Linked DNA regions of Homo sapiens: region 1 is linked to region 2. A link means that fine-mapping ties the variant in region 2 to the expression of a gene that starts in the linked region. Tissue or cell type: whole blood. Region 2 holds a variant in brackets; the other region holds the start of a gene. All regions are shown on one strand. Distances are between the middles of the regions.

The links. PIP is the estimated chance that this variant, and not a neighbour inherited with it, causes the effect.
Region 1: it holds the start of PTDSS1, and the variant in region 2 is fine-mapped to the expression of PTDSS1 in whole blood (TOPMed, PIP above 0.99).

The regions. Positions count from the first base shown.
Region 1 is chr8:96,258,006-96,265,464 of GRCh38, forward strand. PTDSS1 (phosphatidylserine synthase 1) reads left to right here and starts at 3,897. Exons shown (of 13, transcript NM_014754.3): 1 at 3,897-4,214. The coding sequence starts at 4,036. MTERF3 (mitochondrial transcription termination factor 3) reads right to left here and starts at 3,605. Exons shown (of 8, transcript NM_015942.5): 1 at 3,496-3,605; 2 at 352-695. The coding sequence starts at 685. It overlaps LOC105375652 (a long non-coding RNA gene), which reads right to left. Exons shown (of 3, transcript XR_928431.3): 3 at 6,801-6,887. RefSeq lists enhancers at 2,358-3,051, 3,203-3,262, 3,745-4,437, 4,583-4,822 and silencers at 3,426-3,750, 3,503-3,652, 3,833-4,202, 4,253-4,432.
Region 2 is chr8:96,332,185-96,339,643 of GRCh38, forward strand. PTDSS1 (phosphatidylserine synthase 1) reads left to right here. Exons shown (of 13, transcript NM_014754.3): 13 at 1,273-4,811. The coding sequence ends at 1,382. Among named protein-coding and RNA genes, the nearest start is that of PTDSS1, 74 kb to the left of the region's middle. RefSeq lists an enhancer at 7,344-7,459. The variant G/GTATT (reference allele first, on the strand shown) is at 2,261.

The DNA of each region.
Region 1 (7,459 bases), 74 kb before region 2:
AATTCATAGAACTATATATCCCACAAGATGAATTTTACTTGATATAATTATACCCTAATAAAACTAATTACCACTAGAAGAATTTTGTTTTAAGAATCTAAACAATAAAATATTTAAAAAGCAAATGTTTTATATGTGTAGCTATAAAATAATCTTACACGTTAGCCCACAAACTTTTTTTCTTACCAGTAAAATAAAGGCATGATAGAAGTTCATCAATAGAACTGGTATTATTCTTTTTCTTTCTTGGCACAAAATATTACCTGAAATGGGCTAGCAGAAGGTAAACAGGTAGCTTGTTCAAATGGCCAAAGTAGGGAAAGGGAGACTTTTCTGAAAGTTCAGAATTACCTTCTAGAAACAGCTCAGAATCAAAGCTGGATATATTTTGTGTCTTCTGTGACTGTTCATTCATGGAAGGAAGCAGACTGCTTTGGGCAGAATTATTCTCCTGACTACTTGAGCTAGTAGACTGGGAACTATTCCATAAGGAGGAAGTCCTGTAAGTCTTAAATCCCCACTGGAGAAAGCAATTGTCAGAGGATATCTGAGGCTGAGCAGAAAAGCCATGTAACAGTGTTCTTGCTGGTCTAGTAAAACGTTTTGTGAGTTGTGCAGCATTAATGAGGCTCCTCAACTTAACTGAGTTAAACCATCTGGGTATCTGTTGGGCTGACAAAGCCATTTTTCTTAGTCTACAAAGGAAAGATATAACCGTCAAAAGAAGAGAAATTTAATTTACTTAAATGTTTAAAACGGTATTCAAACAACAAAAAGATAAACTGGAAATTATTTTTTTCTAATTGAAAGGTGTTTAAATATATATTTAGTCTAAAATAGTGAGATGTTTCTTATGTACAGGAAAAGCCAACAACAAGGCAATCTCAGTTACAAACCAACAGACAGGAACTTCTGAGTGGAAAAATAAAGATATACTTTACAATTTAAAAACAAAATGCAATGACACTGGTGTAAGAAAAATGCTTAAAACAAAAATCTGCAAATGTTCAAGTGACAGCAGACCTCACTAATCTGTTAATTTAATCATTTAAAGAGAATAAGCTGATGCAAATAAGTGTTCTTGAAATTTGGTGTGAAGGGTGTTTCCGCAGCACATTGCTGATCAAAGTAACACTGAATTATTCAAATGCATTTTATGTATATAAATTTGTCCCAAAATGAAAAAACAGAAATCTACTGTGTCCTAAACAAATCATCAAAATATTATCATTGATATACAGAACAGTGAAAGCAGTTTCTTGCTTCATTCTCAGGGCTGAACACTGTTGATTACTTCACAGATAAAGCTGTTCTTCCAAAGGGAATTGAACAAAACCAGTTTTGTCAAGTTTTGTTTCACTGTAGGAAAGGAGAAAAAAGCCTTCAAAAAGAAAAGGTCAAAACTAGTAACAAAACCAAGTGACAGAAATAAATAAGCAACCAGCAATTAATACCTGTATATTTTGACTGAAAAAGTAGTTTTCAAAAATATTTTTATCAGGAAAGGCTAGTGCTATGTTAAACTCCAGGAATATGAAGGGATTTTATATTTAGCCAGCTAATTAGAAAGGTAAATTTGATGCATATAATCTTACGTTAAATAACATTATCCATATAAAACACAGGATGGAGTCAGGATATAAGAAATGCTCAATAAATGTTAGCCATTATTATTGGTTACACAACCAAATACAAAAATTCTGCTGAATTAATTGCTGCCTACAACTTTATACTTTGTTTTTCTGCATACTGGAATTCAGCTTGTTTTATGCTCTAAATTAGACCAAATACTTGAGGGTCTAATCTTTTCTTGGAGATCTGTAGTTTTGGGAAGTTTGCTGAAAGAGATTTTACAAAAGTGAAAGTTTCCTTTCATTCTGCAATTATTTATTATTATTATTATTATTATTTTTTTTGAGACGGAGTTTCGCCCTTGTTGCCCAGGCTGGAGTACAACGGCACCATCTTGGCTCACTGCAACCTCTGCCTCCCAGGTTCAAGTGATTCTCCTGCCTCAGCCTCCCGAGTAGCTGGGATTACCCACGCCCGCTACTATGCCCGGCTAATTTTTTGTGTTTTTAGTAGAGACGGGGTTTCACCATCTTGGCCAGGCTGGCCTCGAACTCCTTACCTCAGGTGATCCACCCAGCTTCCCAAAGTGCTGGGATTACAGGCGTGAGCCACTGCGCTCGGCCCATTCTGCGATGATTTTAGAAAAGAAGTAAGTATTCACAATACCCTGCTGGGATAGGTGGTTTCTGTTAGATTTTGGTGGGAAATGGGACTCCAAATGTGCCAAGTTTTCCCTCAAACCTACAACATTCATTCTCTGCACGGTAGTCATAAGGGCACTAAATTGAAAGTCAGAAGACCTCGGTTGTGCTACCTTGACAAGGCTGTTTCTGGCAGCAGTCTAACAAAAGCAGCAGTCTAGCCCATGATGTGGGGGGTGGGGGTGGGGTCAATAACTATTCTTCAAATAATGCTTTTTTAAAAGGCTAGGGGTACAATAAGATGATTCTTAAGGCCCCTATCAGCTCTAACATTTTTTGACGTCTAAGCACTTCATCCTACTTCAAACTCCTGAAATCCCAAATTCATCCTGAAGCCTTTCCACACTCAATACCACTTAAACATCAGGAAGACTCACTTTCAAATTTCACCCCGTCATTAAAAGATCTTTGTGCATACAACTAATGTTTATCCTTGCATTTTTATTTACAAGTGCACTATCTTCTCCACATCCTTTCATTGCTGCCTACACATCTTAACAATTGATTAACTGTTCATGCACGAGAGCAGAGCTGGGTCTCATCCCTGGATCCATCCTTCCGGGGACTATTCTCCACTTTCCCAGAGCCTTGTACTGCTCTAATGTTTGCGGAATGGAAATAAATCAATGGCAAGTACAGTTAACTCACTTGCTTACACAGTATGCAAAAGCGGGTAGGGGATGTGCAGATGTGTATAAAAGCCCTGTAAGGTGGTAACCTGAAGTCTTCTAACAAGGTCCTTTCATCAGGAAAATTACAGAAAACCCTTAAAGAAACTGAAGTCTCTTAACAATTCATATATACTGTTCTCAATGAGTGCCTAGTGCTTCGCTAGAAAAAGGCACTGAAATAGAGTTCAAGATTTCTACCTACGAAATGCTATAAATGAAATCAGGAGAGAAAGGGAGGTTATGGGGGCAGCTTCCTAATAAAGGGTCTCTCAATACTTCCCAGGCCATTTTAGCCCACTTCAGTTCCCCAAACTTGCGCAGGAAGGCAGAGCCCCCTCCTGAGGCTTCTCACACTGCGCTAATTAGCCAGCATGGTTGAGTTTTCACTACATCAGCCAGGGAAAAACACAAAACAAAACCAATCACCCTCTACTGGGCCGCGAAAACCTAAAGGCCCTTGAGGCCCTGGGGCGCGGTCTGGACGCGGGTGCGCCGGAACCTGAACCCTCGCCAGGAGCGCGATCCTCGTGCTGGGGCAGCTCCTGCTTTACCTGTGGCGAGGCCTGCTTCCCGTAGCGGGTGACCCCGGGACCGACCAACTCGCTGGGCCGCACGTCCCGTCCCGCCGCGCCGCACGCCGGCTCCTCAGCCCGCCCTACACAGCGCAGCCGCGCTCCCGGGCCCACGTGGGCCGCGCCCGGAGTGGGCGAGACCATGTGCCGGGTTACGCGGGGAGACAGCGGGCTACGTGCTCTGAAAAGAGCCAGCCAGGGGCCCCGGCTACCCTTCTCCGGCTCGCTATTCCTCTGAAGTCCTGTGGACTTGGAGTCTGAAAATTCCTCGAGTGGTAGAGATGCCTCAGCTAGGATGACAGCGTGGGGACGGCCGGCGGCGTCCCCTGCCCCAGGCCGCGGTGGCGGCGCCGCGACCCCGCCCTCTCGCGCCTGTCCTTCCCTCTGCTCCCAGCCTTTGCTGGGCGCCAGACCCGGCTTTGCCGTCCGGCTATTAGCCTACTGTGGCTAGTCACCCCCGGGGTCCCGGCCTTCTCGGGCTGGGGCCGCCGCCACCGCGGCAGGACGGGGAGGCGGGCCATGGCGTCCTGCGTGGGGAGCCGGACCCTAAGCAAGGATGATGTGAACTACAAAATGCATTTCCGGATGATCAACGAGCAGCAAGTGGAGGACATCACCATTGACTTCTTCTACCGGCCGCATACCATCACCCTGCTCAGCTTCACCATCGTCAGCCTCATGTACTTCGCCTTTACCAGGTGGGGCGGCCCAGCCGAGCGGGGGGCGCGTCCAAGGGCTAGGGAAGAGGCGGGAGGGAGGGTGGCGGGGAGGGGGGCCCGGCATGGCTCTGGGTGAGGAAGTGGGCTGGCTGCTCCACGCACACGCACTGGCAGCCCGCCGCCCACGCGGCCCCTCCGCCCGCCCGGTGTCTCACAGTACGCTAGCCTGCTCCCCTACCCCTCAGTGCCCCTTCTCCATACAGCGCCTCCGGTTACACGGGGAACGCACGCGAGTCACCTAGCACGATCGCCCCCTCACCCACCGCACTCAGCATCGCTCCACACAACATCACGACGCGGGCCCCTCCTCTGCACTGCTCCAGCCTTCGTCCCTACCCAGCACACCGCATGAATCATGTCGTATGCACCACTTTCAGCACACACCGCTACACATACAAAGCACCCCAATCCACAGCGCCTGCAGGCACCATACACAGGCCCAGGACACAACCTAGATCCCTTCCTGTGGAACTCCGGTATTCGGCACTATCCGTAACGCACAAAAAATGCACATGTGTGCTGCATACACGGTCTTTCCTGTGCAGCACTTCCCGTATGCATTGCACACAAGTCATCCAGCATAACACTTCCCCCAGCCTCAAACACTACCATCTGTACCACGGCACAAACTGCCACTCTAAACACACACCTCACAGCGGACCTTTCCTTTCCAGCACAGCCCAATACCCATCATCTGTGTACATGGCTGCACAGACACCAGCCCGCCACACATCACGCGGTGCATACCCTGCTCACTCATTACCTAACATACGTGCTGAAATGTGATCTTGTCCAGCAATTTTAATGGTGCCTGGGGTATAGTAACTGCTGTGTGTTAAATGAAACACATAAACCTCACACAGCATAACACAACTCTCTTATTCCCTGGAAAACATACACACACATTCTAATATATACCGGTTCATAGGAGCTGCCCAGCCCAAATCTTGAACACACCTCATGTTAACTCTGGCACTGCGCCTGTGGCTCCTCATTCCTAACCTAGAGAACTAATTCATCCTTGGTTCATAAGGAGGTACACACCGTGGTTCCTACTTAGAATGATTTATACTTTCTGAATGAACCTCTTTAAAGAAAGGGAAGTCACACCTCTCTCACCATTATGGCTTAAAAGGCCAACTTAGAGTAGAGTAGTTTTTGAGCCACACTTTTGGTTTCAAAACTGGCTGTGTGTCCTTAATTAAGTTGCATAACCTTGCTCTGAGCCTCAGGGGCCACACTCGTAAAATGGGGATGAAATATCTACTTATATAGGGTTATGAAAATTAAATGAATGTGTGTGAATGCATTTAGCAGAGTCCCTGGAGCACAATGTACAATTCATGTCAGTTACTTCTCTCCCAGTATTTTTATCCAACAATCAAGGTTCTCTGTCAGGGTCAGCAGAACATGTGTAGGGATATATATATTGGGTAGTCACAAGGATTGAGAGAACTTCTAGTATTTGGGAGGGGGAGCAGTTAACGGATACTAAATGTATTGTGACATATGTGACAGCGCTGTACAACATAAAGGGAATTGTCTTCTACACAGTCGTTTGCATACACACACACAAGTGCCGGTGGTGCCTCCCTTAGGAATAACTGCAGTTTTTCAAATCCTCATAAAACTAATATCCTCCCACATCACACTTGTTCCTTACCTCTGGGATTCATTTGACTCTTGGTTCTTGTTATGTAAGTGTTTATCCATTTGAAAGAATCTACCTAAAGGTATAAAGCTTAAGTAACAATTGCTTACTCTTTAATGATTGAGGGATCTTGCCACTATTACTATAAAATCTGCTAAAGCTGTGCAGCAGGTGAAGACCAGACCTTTCCACAGTACCTGACCAGACATATTTCTAGCTTTGGAGAGAAATGAATCATGTCCCTAACTATGGTTACTTTCAAATACTTCATTATGTTGCCTGATTTTATCACTTAATAGCTGTGTGGCCACATAATTTTGCTAGGCCTCAGTTTCCTTATCTGTATGTAAAATGAAAATATCAATACATTAATCTGTCGGGATTATTTGTCATGAGGATTAAATTCATCTTTTTAGATAATCTGTTTAGCTCAGTGCATGGCAAGTATTAAGTGCTTAATAAACATTAGTGGTTATTACGATGTGATTTCATTGAATGCTACTGTCTTCTAATTTATATTTATTATTGAACGAGGATGTAGTATGCTCTGTAATTGAGAAGGATAAAAGCACTGGAAAAATGGACATTAGATAACATACATACCTGTTTGATGTTAACTTCAGTTTAACTTCATCTTAGGTGTGGGCTTGAAATAATGAAATTAGTGAGGGAGTTTCTCTGGAAATTAGAAAAATAATTATGGTATTTTGTTTTAAATAATGAGAAGCAAGAATGAGCCATTTGTTTCAGCCTTTCATTTTTAATATTATTCTAGGTCCTTTCAAAATAGGTTTCTCTTCCTCTTTTCTGATATAAAAAGTCACAATCTTCTGAAATTTCCTTTTACATCATATTCTGTCAAGGCAGTCAATAAATTGCAGCAGTGAAAGTATAAGAAATGAATACGAATTTTAACAGCTTGTCCAAAATAATAGAAGAACCATAATCTGAACTTCAGACTGTAGTCTCATCCAAAAATGTTAACAATTTTATTTCTTCCACTAATTTCATAAAGAGACAGAAATCACATAATGAAGAACTAATTAATAACAAGTTTCACTTTATATAAAATCATAAGCACCATTAATAGAATTCGTACTTACTAAATCTTACTCATTTTTTGTAATGATTTGTGACTTAAGTGGGGCATTACAATGATAGCTCTATATTCCTCCATAAAGACGGAAAGTAACGACTTCTTAAATGAAAATGTATCCTATGTTCTTTTGTAATGATTAACTCCAGTGCCTTATTATTTATTTTATAAGATTTTAGTTGGACAATTGTTCAGTGCAATTCTTTCAGTAAAACTTAAAAGATATGTCTTAAAGTTTGTTTTGCAAAGACTAGTTGTCTAAGAGAACGAGGAGATAGGATTCTTTTGGGATGTCATATAACCAGTATGTGAGAAACAGTACTTGGGTACTGTCACATGCTTCAGAGATCCAGCAAGAATTTAAAATTACAGAGGATTAGATACCTTGCACTGAAGTCTGAGACAAGTTTGGATTTGTCAAGTAGTTCTTTTGTTAGATGGCCCTTAGGTCAATTCCCTGTTAAACCATAGTATTTA
Region 2 (7,459 bases):
GAATATTTGGGGCCACCTGGTTATTTCAAAGAATTAGACTTGTAGAATAATGACATTGAGGTGATTTCATTGGACAGTAATTCCTCGTCAATCCTTATAAGCTACTTGGGAAGCTTGGCTGAAGAAAGAAAATTAGAAATACTAAAGACTGAATTTTAGCTCACAAAATTGCTCAGAGAAACGGTGGGCCAATGGAGAAGAAAGCGCCCTGTTGCAGTCATTCTCCTAAGTTCTTTTGGCATCAGGCTCATTAAAGATCTCCCAGGGGAGACACTAACATACACTCTGCTGAGCTGCTGGCCGCCCTTTTGGGGAAAGTTTCTCCTGAACCACGGAATTGATCAGTGAGCGGCCCGTTGTGAAATCTGATAGAGATGGACAGAGGGGCTCCCCAGCTATCTTATTTAGAACCATGCCCTTACAAACAACCTTGGCACTTACAGGTTCTCCACTGAAGAGAATTAAGCAGTAGTAGAGATGTATTTACTTGATGGAATAATAAAAAAAGAAAAATAACAAAAACAGAAGTCTTCTGAGTGGGGAAAGAATCTCTTAGTCTAAGTCAAATGCTCCTTACAGTGGAGACTGTAACTCTGGTAACTTTTTTTTTGTTGGCAGCCTCAGGTGGAGATTTCCTATGGGGCTGGATCAGAGCCCTGGGGCAGAGAACCCTTTGGCTTGGCCGCTAGGCCAGGCAGGGGCTGAACAAAGGCTCAGCTGGAGGGCAGAGGCTGCCCAGTGCCCTCCATCGTGGGCAGCAGGGGCCTGAATTGTAAAGATGTTCTCCAGATCAAATGTAGAGGGTGTGAAATAGCTCTGATTTTATAGTGTCAAGAGTCTTTCCTGATGTCGGGTTTAGAAGGTGGTGTGGAGCAGGTGAAGGGATGGAAACCCTTGGTTGCAGGGCAGGATGGGCACCGCGTGGTGTGTGTTTTAATTGCCCCTCGTTTGGGCTTCCGTTTCACTTGTGCTCTCACTTCTGGTCCTCACCATCATGACCATGTCCATCATACACAGGACAGATGTACACACGCTTCAGGAACCACCCAGACTTTGGGGCGCTATTGCGTTGAACCCCGCGCCACCGCGTGTGCTCCTTCAGTACTAGTTCTGTGTTTGAGAGCCTCGCCTTCATTTATGAATGAGGCCACTAGGGGGAGTGCACGTATCAGGGAAGAACCTGTTCCCCGGCAAGCCTAGGGCGGTCTGGAAAGGGACAGTCACCAATCTCCAGAGCCCAGGGTGACGGTGTGCTCTGATTCCTTTGGCCAGGTTCTGAAGACAGCCCACCCAAGCATGCAGGCAACAACGAAAGCCATTCTTCCAGGAGAAGGAATCGGCATTCCAAGTCAAAAGTCACCAATGGCGTTGGAAAGAAATGAAAAACCCTGGTTAATCAAAGATGTTCCAGAGTGCCTAGAACTGAGAGGGAAATGGAACTCATTTGGAACTCCCCGTGAGGAGGTCGAGGCGCACAGGGCAAGCAGGAAGAGGCGAGGGCACTTGGGGGTCATTATTTGAGATCGTAAGTCTTGTTTCCCACAGACCTGGCCGCGTCAGGCAGATCATCGCCTGGGGGGCCTTTGCCAACGTGGGGTCTCTTCTAACTTCAGCACTTGACATGCGGTCACCGGTGGCAGCGCGGTGTGTTGAAGGGAAACGGTAGCTATTCATTCACAGTTGCCAAGAGCAGCTCCGCGCCTGCTGGATCGTGGATGCAGCGTAAACATCTTCCTTCAGACGAGGCATTAACCCCATGGTTAATGGACTGGTCACCAGTTTTTATTTTATTTTTATGAATCTACCTTTCCATTGATTGATTTAAGTTCAGGCCACTTTTCTGTCTTTTATTTGGTTACTGTTGTTATTTGTTTTTAAGTTAGGATGCTTTTTAACAGCCTTTAGAAGCCGCTGCTGAAATTGATACTGGGGGAAGGGTTCCCCTTCCTTCTAGAGCAGAAAAGGGAGAGAGGTGTTGTATTCCTGTTTGGTAACCTCAGTCTCCTGTAAGACCTCCTACCACATGGCGAGTATACACCAATCAGGAGAGGGTAGCTGCCTGCATAGGAGCCTCGCTTCCGATTATTCCCTTCCCAATATTATTCATCCAGACTTAGCCACAGTGCACAAAAGCAAACCTGCTAGAGAGGCAGTGAACACCACAGCTTCTCCCCAGCTAGGTGCCTTTTACATCGGGTTTGTTCTCCTTCCATGGTGTGTTGCTGACATTGTCACTGAGTCCCATGTGAGGTGCTGGTGA[G/GTATT]TATTACCTTTCATCTGTGCCATGCTCTAGAACCTTGACCTTGATAGTTCACCACCTCTGATGGATCCCTGTTTTAAATAAAAACGATTCACTTTAAAGCCTATCAAAGGTCTGTCTGTAAAATGCTCATTTTCTTGCATCTTACTGGTATCTTCTATTGATTGTAAGCAGTCTGTGTTTTTCAAGTGACTTTAGGATAATATATATGTGTTTTACATAGTGAGAAGAAAAAAGAAAAGATGTGTATTTTAAAGGGCTTACAGACATATATGTCCTACTTCTTAGACTACCCAAGTGACCAACAGGAATGAACAACATAGTCATTGTTTTTTCCTGTGGTAATGGTTTCCAAGTTGGACTTTTTTTTCCTCTAACAAGAGGCCAGTACCCAGTTGATTAGCTTACAGATATCAACTCACTGAAAGTAATCTTTTGTTCCCTCATTTCACACAGCACAAAGGTTCGTTCTGATGTTTCTTCTTCTTTAAGGAAATCTTTAGCCATAGAAGTGTCACTTTTTTTTTTTCTGCAAAAGAATTCCAAGATGAACGGGTTGAATGAATCATGCCAGCCAGGGTCACATCCTGTCCTCAGGGGGCCCAGTGCTCAATAGTAGATTCTGCGGGAGTGGAGAAGCGTCAGTGGCAGCTCCGCTCACTTGGTGAGTGAGGGATTTGGCTGTGATGAGCCTCAGCTCCGAGCTCTCAAATGTCCTCCAGCCAGCATCTGCCTGCTTCCCACAAAAGGATAGAAGAGAGGCAAAGTGCGTGTTTCATAAAACCTGCCTGCACTTTTATAACCCATCAAAGAGGCCATTTTTAAACACAGGTACAATTTAAACATGATCTTTCTTTGCAAATAAATATGTTTTGTTTCATCCTGTGTTCTGCTTTTCTAAGCATGACATACTTGTGCCCATTGGAGAAGACACCTGTCTCTTCTTTCTCACACCGGTGGTGCCTCACTGAGTGTTTCCGGGTTCATTTTCCGGGAGCACTGGGCCTGACACTTTCACACTCTTCTGACTTTCGCCTTGTTGCAACTGATGGAGCATGTGTGCTTCCTCTGAGGCCAGCCTACAGGAGGCAGCTGTTTCGCAGGTGGTGAATTCGACTTTACTGTGGCATTGTGAAGAGCAGGGTGCACAGGAGATGATTTTTTCTCCATGGCTTTGTAAGAAACAGCCAGGAAAGTTCTCAGATACTTTCCATGCCCTTTCTTTGAGTTGAAACTTTCTATTTCCCTTCAGTCAGAGCTCTTTACTATAGTAGTTACAAAACCAGTGCTTTCCATGGCTGGCCAGAACCACAGCTGCTATTCCTTTTAGAAGCCATACTGCTGGGTTTGGCCTACTTTTTTCACCGTTTCTATGGAAATAAACCTCACATTGATGGAAATAGAATGCGTGTTTCAGAATCATCATTCAATATCTGAAATGATTTGATTGTAAATTATCTCATGGTCCCTGTTTGCAAACCACCCTCTTAAGAGAGAACATTGTTTTGGACCTAAAGCTTGAAGAACGGTTTATGTATTTTTCTCCTTAAGTAGCATTGCATTGAGTGTTAGGTTCTTTTCCCTTTTTTTCATTCTTGGTCTTCCCAAAGCTTCTTCCCACATTTCGTTTGTGTCTGTTTCCACCATTCATAGAAACCTTGGAACCACTCTCACAGCAATGCTAGGATGTTTCATGGACCTGTTAAGCATTTTGATGATACAAGACATCCTATCAATGCCAGTCTTATTTTCGCTAGGACTCTGCTTCCACAGTAAGCTCCTAAGGTGCTCACCCAACCCAGGAGAAAACAAAATTCATTACCAAATACAACAGGTTCAGCCTTCTTGGTCTTCCCTCAGAAGCCACCGTGTAGCACCCTGGAATGATGCCTCTTTATGCCAAGGCCCACCCTTTGGAATTGGGAGGGTTTTGGGTAGAATCCTGCACTTACAGAGGCCCTTGGGGTCATTGAGAAGTGGAGGAGGTTGGACACAGAAGGGGAGGCTAAACACAAGGTGGGGAAGAAAAAATGTAACCATTGGCAGCCAGACTGAAGCTAGCCCTTTAAAATACGGGGTTGGGGGGTTAACATCCGCTCTTTGGAATGTGCTCAGTGACTGCTGCAGAGTTCCTGGGCCACCCTAATGTTTACCAGGTGGGCGTTGTTTATATGGTTCTTATTGTTATGACAACTAGAAATCCCACAGTAGACTAGACAGTGCTCCCTACCATTTCCCATTTATAGGATTGAAATCAAGATGTAAGGAGAGCTGGCCGGGCGCAGGGCTCACGCCTGTAATCCCAGCACTTTGGGAGGCTGAGGTGGGTGGATCGCCTGAGGTCAGGAGTTTGAGACCAGCCTGACCAATATGGTGAAACCCTGTCTCTGCTGAAAATACTTAAATTAGCCGGGCATGGTGGCAGGCACCTGTAGTCCCAGCTACTCGGGAGACAGAGACAGAAGAAATGCTTGAACCCAGGAGGTGGAGGTTCCAGTGAGCCGAGATCACGCCACCGCACTCTCTAACCTGGGCGACAGAGCGAGACTATCTCAAAAAAAAAAAAAAAAAAAAAAAAAAACTGTAAGGCGAGCTAAGACGTCTGTCTATCAGTGTTCCATTACATAATACACCTCTTTCCTTCACATGTGTGTGCACATTCTCAGGATTATATTAGAGATTTGATTCTTTGCAAGGGTCAGTATCAGTAATGGCTGAGACTGGTGGGCTGCAGTCATGTTGCTATGCCGTAAGAGGTTTTTACAACATTTCCCCTTATCACACTTTATTCTAACCTGATGATGGGCCTATCTCAGGTGAAGATTGCAATAGTTTCCTTAATTGAACTTTGGTATTTGATGCATTAAATAAATATGGCTTTTTAATTTTGCTATCTTCTGTGAATTTAAAGGAATTATTTCATTGATGTCTACCAAAGAAGATAAAAAAACAGTTGGATGTGAAATTTTTTTAGGTTGTGGGAATGCTACGTTGTAAAAATCTTCCTTTTCTTCCATGTTCACTAAAAAATGCCTTTAGTCCATTTCAGAAAGTTCATCTGTGACTTGGTCTACTCTGATATTCCCTTTCTTGCAGCTTGTTAGGTGGAATTTTGAAGTTGCTTGTCCTGCAAAGAGATATTTGTTGTCACAGTCTAACAGTGTTCAAGGGTTTGCAACATGTCCAAGTACCTCCAAGGCCTCACAGGGCTAAGCTGAATTTATCCCTCATGATACTCTGATACTCATAATACTCTGGTTGAAGCCTGGTCTCTACCTCCATATTCAGTACACCCAGCTGGGGAGGCGGGTGACAGCAAGCTTCCTGCCTGCATTTCTAGCAAAAGGGACTCCTAAGCCCCAGCATTGTTGTCCTCTTGGAGCAGAGAGAAGGGTGTTGGCAGATCCCTTCCCCTCTCGTAACCCCAGTGAGGACAGTAACATCATTCAGAACATAGAATTTACCCAAGGGTTTTGCTTTCACAGCTGATGCAACCAACCACCCAGCCTCTTTAAGTGATCTGGGCTCACGCTCGTACTTGTGCCTGGGAGTTAATTGCTGGTTTTTCTTTGTTACTGGAATGCTCAAGACATCACCCTGGCCAGGGTCTGCAAACTGTGGGCACCGACAGTGCCCTGCGGTGGCAGGAAGATTTGCTCAGAGCTGTGACCTCCTGCCCCTCGGAGCAGTCATCCCAGGGCGTCAGAGCCTGGTGTTCCATTGTAGGGTGTGGCCCCTTTCTGGATGCTGAGTAAAGGAGACTCTTGTGGTTTTACAAACCACAGGAAATGAAGTTTGTCTGCCTTTAAAAGAAAATTGGTTTTCTAACATTTGAGACTAAAAAAACCAAAATATTTCATTATCGTGTCTGAAGTATACACACAATAGCTTTCATTACAGAGTCAAATTGCAGGCAAGGTTTATGTAACAATCCATACTGGAAATCCGGGCTGTAAGCCTGACTGTTCCCACCCGCCCGACAAAGGGCTGTTTGGGCTCAATCTCATCTCTCCAACTGCATACGTCATGGACTGATTAGGTATTTTATGAGTGCAGCGTGGGAAAGGCTTAAGAAAGATCTTCAGCTTTCAAAATGTTAGGGATCCTCCACCTCTCTTAGAGTGGATGAAATCCAGACCAGGAGCAGGGGAATAAGAGTTCACTAGGGCCACTGCTAACATGACTTCCAGACAGTGGCATTCAGAGGATTGGAGCCTTCAAAACACCCCCGTGTGGGGCTCTCCGCACCCCTTCCCTCTCGTCCCTGAATCCTCCCAGCAGCCACAGTAACACAAGCTTGCACATAGAGCACACGGCCAGGAGGTGCCCGGGGGCCACCGGAGCAACACAGCCTGAGACTCTGTGCCAGGCTCCTCCCCTGGATTCTTGTGCACATGTCTTACTCCTATCAGCAGACCACAGCCCCATAGATCCTCACTGGCCTCAGAGCTGGCAAATGGATGGCAAGGAGCTGGTTCCCTGGTGACCGCCACACCTTTGCTCCTCCTCCTCCTCCTTGGAAGGAGACTCAGATCTCAGGTGCTTGCTTGATTAGAGATGGCCACACCTCCAAGCCACTCTTCAGGTGGCTCCAGGGGTGGTTGGCTGGTTGCGTGCTCTGTGGACAGAATAACTGGTGTTGGCCTTCGTTGTCTTTTGTGTCCTGTGAGTAGGCAGACTCCGGCCTTGACATCCCTGTGTTTCTGTGGCCTGAAATCAGTCGAGATGCCAGCTCTTGAACAGGGTCCCCATACTCCACGTGGATTCTTTTCCCAATGTTTTGACGCATTCTGCAAACTGTTGGAAGGCAATTTCTCTCCCCTGTAGCAGCTCCCTCTGCCCTCAGGAATGTGATTTACAATCTGATGAGGCCATAAACCTCTACTTTTCACGTCTGAAAAACAGCAAAGTATGGGAAAGAATGTAAATTATAAATACTGAATTCCTATGGTCAGCAATAATGGAATGGCCTGGGTGGGTTATTTTTTTTAATATGGTATGCATATGGCTTTAATTTCGAAGGGGTTGGGTCCTCCCCCACCACTGTATTTCTTGGGAGAACAGATAACAGCAAAATGTCCTGCTGTGATACGGTGTTTTTCCAAAATGAAAAAATAGCATCTTTCTGATGACTCACTGGCCAAATACTTTGAAAGGCCACTGTCCATGGAGGGGGATGGGATGGTAGGTGACAGTGACATT